Linked DNA regions of Homo sapiens. The protein of the gene in region 1 purifies or fractionates together with the protein of each later gene. This does not show direct contact. Each region holds a gene or a part of one and is shown on either strand. Other genes may lie near its edges.

What was found.
Region 2: the proteins of SYN3 (region 1) and WRNIP1 purify together in Homo sapiens (co-immunoprecipitation; one large-scale study listed by IntAct). This does not show direct contact.

Annotation. Positions count from the first base shown.
Region 1 is NC_000022.11:33,009,602-33,013,427, reverse strand, and holds part of SYN3 (synapsin-3), read left to right. Parts: intron 1-3,826. UniProt on the Homo sapiens protein: May be involved in the regulation of neurotransmitter release and synaptogenesis.
Region 2 is NC_000006.12:2,778,643-2,782,468, forward strand, and holds part of WRNIP1 (ATPase WRNIP1), read left to right. Parts: intron 1-620; coding exon 621-850; intron 851-3,826. UniProt on the Homo sapiens protein: Functions as a modulator of initiation or reinitiation events during DNA polymerase delta-mediated DNA synthesis. In the presence of ATP, stimulation of DNA polymerase delta-mediated DNA synthesis is decreased.

The DNA.
Region 1 (3,826 bases):
TAAAAGTAACTTTCTCAGAGAGGCCTTCTCTAACCATCCTCTCTGCAAAAGTCCTGCCCCAAGTGAATTTCGATGACCACACTCTGTGTATTGTTTACTTGCACTTACCCTAAACCATAAATGTTTGTCTGCATGTTCATGATTGGCCTCCCTTTGCCAGCCTGTAAGTTCCACTGGGGCCTGTAGTGGGCAGAAGTTACCTGAGAAGCCTTTGACTAACATTGGAGTAGGTCAAAAGATGGTAAGAGGTGATTTTTTTTCAAAGTCAGGGAATTCATATCAATGGAAGGTTGACCAGAGTTCCTGAAGAAGGAATTGTTAAATAAACTCTAAGATCCCTTCAACCCTAACATTTTAACTTTTCCATCTGGTATTTGAAAAATGGAAGGGGCTCAGTTCCAGTAATGACGGCATAGCCTAAGTTGAACTAAACCTCTCACAGATGATAATGATAAACTTTGGAAAAAATCTTTAAAACGATTTGAGGTTGCTGGAGAAAAACAAAAAATAGACAGGAGGTGGACAGGATTTGACCCTTGAAGGAAGGAAAACCACACCCACTTAGTGAAATATACATTTAGGTGGCTCTTCCCACGCCACCTGGCATGGAGCAGCTGGAACTCAAGTGGAGAGCTGCAGCTTTGCTGGTTTGACAAATCAGGGGGCAGAGTATAAGCTCACAGAGTGGCTGGAAAATGAGGACATCTAAAGAGATGCCCCAGGTCCATGTGCCCACTAAAATCAACTGGCACCTCTGTTGAACCTGTGATGGTTCTGTCTGTCTCTCAGCCCAAATCTGCTTTTCATTCCTGCCCACAGTTGTTGAGCATAGATGGAAGCACTGCCTAATAAACTTCCTGCTTGCAAGTCACCATGGGAGTGTCAGCTACCTGGGGAATTGGACTTGAAAGCAGTCTAAGTAATATTTGTAGAGCATTACACCCAGCAACCACAAAATATGCATTCTTTCCAAGTGCATCTGGAACATTCATCAAGGTAGACTGTATTGAACCATAAAATTAATCTTAATGAACGGCAAAGGTTTAAAACCTTATAGACTGTGTTCAAGAATCACAAATGAATTATATTAAAAGCATTAACAAGACAATAATTAAAAAGCACTGAAATTTGAAAATTAAATGCATGTTTTAGTAATACATGGGTCAAAAAATTATAAGGGATAAACAGAATAATTTAAAATGAATGATAATGAAAATATGTCAGAATTTCTGGGAGGGAAGCACATTGCTTTAAATACTTATATTGGGGAAAAAAAGAGTTTAAAATTAATGATCTGTGTTTCCAGCTCAAGGCTCTAGAAAACAGAATAGCAAATTAAACTTAAACCAAAAGTAAGGAGAAGAAAGGAAGTAATAAAAAACAGAAATAAGTGAAATAGAAAACAAACAATGGAGAAATTGAAAAGGCTGCAAGTTGGTGCCCTGCAAGAGTAATACAATTTATAAATTCTTAGCAACATGGATCAGTCAAAAAGAGAGAAAAAGCAAATTACCAATATCAGGAATATCAGGAGGAATCATAAGATCCTACAGAAAGGATATGTTATGAACAACTTTATGCCAGTAAGTTTCACAACCAAGATGAAATGGACAAAATGCTCGAAATCACATATTGTCAAAATTGAGATAAAAAGAAAAACAAAATATGAATAGCTTTATAAAAGAGATTGAATTCATTATTAAAAACTTTCCCACAAAGAAAAACCAACCCCAGATGGTTTCACTGTTGAATTCTGCCAATAATTTAAGAAAAAAAACACAATATTACACAGACTCTTTCAGAAAATAGAAAAGGAGGGAATGCTTCCCAACCTATTTTGTGAGGTTAATATTACCCTGATACCAAAACCTAGCAAAAACATTGCCAAAAAATAAAACCACAGACCAATGTTTTTTTGTCATGAACATAGACACAAAAATAGCAAAATATTATCAGATTGAATCCACCAATATATAAAAAGGGTAATACACTATGATCAAGTGGGGTTTATCCCAGGAATGCAAGTTTGGTTTAACATTTAAAAATCAATCAGTATAATTTACCACATTGTTAAGCAAATAAATGGTTTCAAAAACATATAATCCTCTCAATAGATTTAGTAAATCACTTGGCAAATTCAACTCCCAAATGATAAGAACTCTCATCCAAATAATAATAGAAGAGAACTGCCTGAATCTAATAAAGTGGATTTACCAAAAACCTCTAGTTAACACCACATTAATGGTGAGATACTGAGTGTTTCCCCCCTAAGATTCGGAACAAGGTAAGGTGTGTGTTTTCATGATTTCTGTTCAATATTGGAGGTCCTAGCTAGGACAGTCAGATAAGGGAAATTAGTAAAAGGCATTCAGATTAGAAAGAAAGAAGTAAAGATCTCTATTTATAGATGACATTATTTAAATAGAAAGTATCAAGGAATCTATAAACAACTAGTAGCAACAATACTTGAATTGAGCATGTCAGTATATTGAAAATAATATTATACTAGCAGCAAACAAATGGAAAGTGAAATTTAGAAAACAGTGTCATTTTAAAAACATGCAAAAAACCCCAAACGAAATAGGAATAAATTTAGCAAAATGTATGCGAGATCTCTATATTGAAAATCACAAAAAAATTTCTGAGTAGAGGGGTCTACTGTGTTCATAGAGAACCCAATATTGTTCAGTGACAATTCTACTCAGTCTATGCAATCTCGAACAATATTCCAACAGACTTTTTCATAAAAGTTGATTTTAAAATGCATATGAAAATAGGACCTAGGATATCTAAGACAATCTTGAGACAGAAAATTTAAGTTGGAGGACTCACTTTACCTGATTTTAAAACTTTCTGGAAAGCCATAGCAATCAATAAATGTAAGAATAGACAGAGAGATCAGTGGAGCATATTAAACATAGTCCAGAAGTAGGCCCACACATGTACAGCCAATTGGTGCCAACAAGGCCACCAAAGCAATTTAGTGGGAGAAAAATACTTTCATAAATGGTGCTGGCAACCTGGATAAATGAACGGGGCTGAAAATGAACTTCATACCCTACTTCATACCACTCAAAAATCAAGTTTAGTTGGATCCCCGACCTCAACAGAAAAGCTAGAACTATAAAGCTTCTACAAGACACTGTAGGATGGTATGATTGTGATCTTGGGGTTGGCAGATTTTTTTTTTTTTTTGGGACAGAGTTTTGCTCCTTTTGCCCAGGCTGAAGTGCAATGATGCGATCCTGGCTCACCGCAACCTCCGCCTCCCAGGTTCAAGTGATTCTCCTGCCTCAGCCTCCCAAGTAGCTGGGATTACAGGCATACACCACCATGCCCAGCTAATTTTGTATTTTTAGTAGAGACGGGGTTTCTCCATGTTGGTCAGGCTGGTCTCGAACTGCAGACCTCAGGTGATCCACCCACCTTGACCTCCCAAAGTGCTGGGATTACAGGCGTGAGCCACCACGCCCAGCCTGGCAGAGATTTTTAAGAACAGACACAGAAACACTAACCATAAATGAAAAATTTGATAAATTAGGTTTCATAAAAATAAAAGTTTCTGTTTATCAAAACATCTGCAGATATATATAAGACTTTATATATATTATATTTATATTATATGCATATATAAGTGTGTGTGTGTGTGTGTGTGTGTGTGTGTGTGTGTGTGTGTTTAGATACGTATATATGAAAGGATATGTAAAGTATTCCCAGTACCCAAAATACAGAAGTGTGGTCTCATCCTATAGTATAATTTTTTTTTCTTATTGGGATGCTTTTATCTCAAATAAACAATTCACTTTTTTAAGAGTTGTTTTATTCT
Region 2 (3,826 bases), on another chromosome or scaffold:
AGATGACCTACTGCAGCATCCCAAGATTCCCCAGGCCAAGAGAATCCTGAGACCTGCTTCTAGGACCTGCTGTGCTCAGAGTAACTAGGGACCCAATTTGTTGTTTTTAAAATGAAGGAATTGAACTGCATGATCTGGAGCCCTTCAGAGCTAATATTCAGATATAATGCTGACTCTCCCCTGTGTGGAAAGTGGTCTAAGCACATCTGTCTCATCGGATGTAGGCTGCATTTGGAACATGTTTTCCATACACGGTAATGAGGTGCTAGCATTTCTAATAAAGTTTTCACTGTTGTGCAGGGTAGAACCAGAGAGACCACCTGTCAACAGTGACTTTCCAGGCCAGTCAGTGTCTGTTTCACACAGACTTAGATGTATGAACCTATGCAGTGAGATACCCTCGACACTCATAAGATACAGGGCGATAACCTGGTGACTTAGGAGCCCCAGTCAGTTCGTAGTCTTGATGATGCTTAAGCACATTGACAAAGGTGAGAATAAGAGGCAAAGGCCTTGAACTCTTCAGTGTCCTTGCTGAGAAGTATGAGTTTCTAAGACATGTGCAGAACAAGAAGTATGCAGCCTGAGTGTGACCGTAACTAACCCTGCTTGTGTTTCAGGCCCGCCATGTTCATAGAGGATAAAGCAGTAGACACCCTGGCTTACCTCAGTGACGGTGACGCCCGAGCTGGGTTGAACGGACTGCAGCTGGCGGTGCTGGCTAGGTTAAGCTCTAGGAAGATGTTCTGTAAGAAGAGTGGGCAATCCTATTCTCCCAGTAGAGTTCTGATCACAGAGAATGACGTGAAGGAGGGCCTACAGCGATCCCACATTTTATATGACCGGGCAGGTAAGTAATTCACCTGTGGAAAGAGTGAAACCATACGGAAAGAAGTGTGTGCACACATTCTCATTTCCGGAAGCCTGACTGGGTTCCGGAAGCATTCCAGCTGGGTCCAGAGCATTCCAGTGATTCTCAGGTGGATCTGCATGTTGGTATTAAGCCTTCTACACAGGGCTGACCTTTCCGAAGAGAGGCATGAAGCAGAAGCTGCCCTGTTGAGAATCTAGAGGAGTTTTGGGGTTGGAAATGGCAGGCTGCACATTCACCTTAGAAGGTAGTTGGCTATTCCCCACCTTGCAGAATACAATCACCTTTGAAAGCCTGTGCATTCACTTGACAATGAATATGTTTTGTGATCATTTACAACGGCAGTAAATAAAAAGAGGACTTTTGTCATAATGACTTATTAGTTTTAATTGAGAATTAAAATGCTTTATTTCTAGAGTCTATACTAAAAAATAGTCATGGATCTTGAAGTTTTTATTTTATGTAGTAGCTTTTTCAAAAATTTAATTTTGCTGTGTGCACTTATCTGTTTTTGTAGAACTGCATTTACAGATAGCAGATTTGATACCAGCTCTTATTAAATCTGTGACTTAGCAATATTAAATGTCATTAGCACAGCACATTTGCATCTTTTTATAAAAGAAGTGGGAGATGAATATAACATACTGTAGATTAGCAAACTTCTGCTGCTTGAGCATTTGTGGGACTTTGGATGGAATCATGTTGCAGTAACTGTGGAATATAATTTCCACACTTTTCAAAGCTCTGCCAGAAAAGGAGGCTGATAATTGAATGTTCCTGATCTCACGTAGGCTGTGCCACGTGACAATGGAGAGTCCTTACTGGTTAGAGAAGGGGTGGAGGGGCTTAAGAATGACTTTGGTTCCAAGCGCTGCCTCTTCGTGGGTGAGCACACTCGCTGCATGACCTAGGGGGGCTGACCAAAGCTTTTTGGCTTTAGCGTGCCTCAGCTGATGGTAGCTCAGGGGTGTTCATTAGTGCTAAGGACACACTGGCAAGTTGAATAAATAATCCTGTCTACATTGTGACGTGAATGTGCCTCAGCGGGGCCTGCTCAGATGGCTGGCTCTCCCTAGTGCTCTGGAGCATGACGTGAATGCTTGCAAAGTCTGAAAAGCAACACATTCTAGGTGTGTAGAGCCCTGCTTGACTTTTGGTCAAATAGAAAAAATGTAGATATGAACAAGAAAAAAGATTTTAAGACATTAAAAAAATCTCACCATGCCGGGATCGCCATTGTTTCTGAAGTGCAGCAGCAGCGGTCTCTCTCTCTCTTCTTGTAGGTGTCCCAAAGGATTTGCCTTGTTTTGATTGGAACGACTAGGACTGTTCTTTGACATTTTATCAGACTGTCACTTGAGATCCATATAACATGGCATTCACTAACACTCAGCCATTGAGTATTTTATAGGTGTATTCATTTTTTAAATTCTCAAAATTGCTTTATGGAGATAGCTATTAATATTACCCCCATTTTAAGATAACAAAGCAAGTGGTGAAACTGACCCGTAAATCCAGGTCTTACTGGTTCCCAAGACTGTCCTTCCCCCCGTCCGCATTTGCCTCCACACCAGCCTTGCCATGCTGTTACTGATCTCACCCATTACATCATGCTCCTGAGAGGGGTCACCCGTCCATGCACATACAGAGCGGATCTTGGAGGGGTTCAGTCCTAGGAATCCCACTTCCTGAGCTCCACGTTGCAGAGCTCTGCACAGTGGGGATCACCTTGTCTATAGCTTGGAGCTGGGGGGTGGTGGAGGCTGCCTAGTGCCGCTGCCTAGTGCCAGCGCCTTAAGAACCCCACATCCTATACATCTTCCCAGTATGAGTGTGTTTACACACCCCACCCCAGTGCAACATGTCTGCCCCACAGTGGATCCGCAGACACATAAATATCATTCAGATCTTGGAGAAAGCTGCTTTTACAGGCTTTGCTCTATAAATAGGGATAGTGGAAGCATTGCCCTGGAAACCTGTTAGCTTATACTCTTGGGCCTTTTTATAACTCCAGTGAGACAAAGACCCACCCCCAGAGTTGTGATTATTTTTGTATATGCCACCTAGTTCATAGTTACCCACTAGTAGGATCCAGTGATGTTTCTGCATCAGAGTGAAGGAATTTCTAAATGAGAGCAAACTCTCTGCCATGCATTGACATCGGGGTTCTATAGAAGTCGTCAGATTTCAGGTTATAAAGCAGTGTGTAATAAAAGCAAACATGGAAGGTAGCATAGAATAATACTAGTATCTATCACTGATGCAAAAGAATCTTTTTACAGTGCCTGCTCTGTGCCAGGCGTGTGTTATTTAATACAGCCCTGTGAGGTAAGTGGTCTCGTTTTTCCCATTTTACAGATGAGAAACCTGAGGCACAGTGAGGATCAGGAACTTGCCCATGGCCCATGAGCTTGGGGGTCCAGCCCAGGCTGTTTGGTCCCAGAGCCTGTGCTCTTGTCCATTATACTGGTGGTATTGCCCCTGGCATTGACAAAGTGGGAAAAGATGACTAACCTGTGTAGGGGGAGTTTAAATTTGACATAAAGTGGTGTGGGTAGTTTCTTCCAGCCCCCATGCCCGTGAGTTTAGCCAGGCCTGTTACCTGCTACCCTCTTCCCCGCCTTCCTCCACCCTGCAGAGGAGCAGAGCGTAGCCTGAGTGCCTGGGCCAGCAGGGTGAGGGAGTGGGCCAGAACCATGCAGATGTCATCCAGGACACCCTCTCGGCCAGTGTCCATAGCACTCTGACTTCACCAGGGGAGCCCTGCACAGGAGACACTCAGTTTGTTCTCAGAAATCCAGTAGCTGGGCTGACCCATCCATCTGCCCTGGCTCTCAGAAACCAGAATCACTCAGGCTGAGCCGTGGGTCCTGCAGGTCTTTCCCCTGTGGGAGGCCAGCATCTTCGCTTGCTCTCTTCTCCACCTGAAGACCAACTGTCATCTTACCAGCGAGC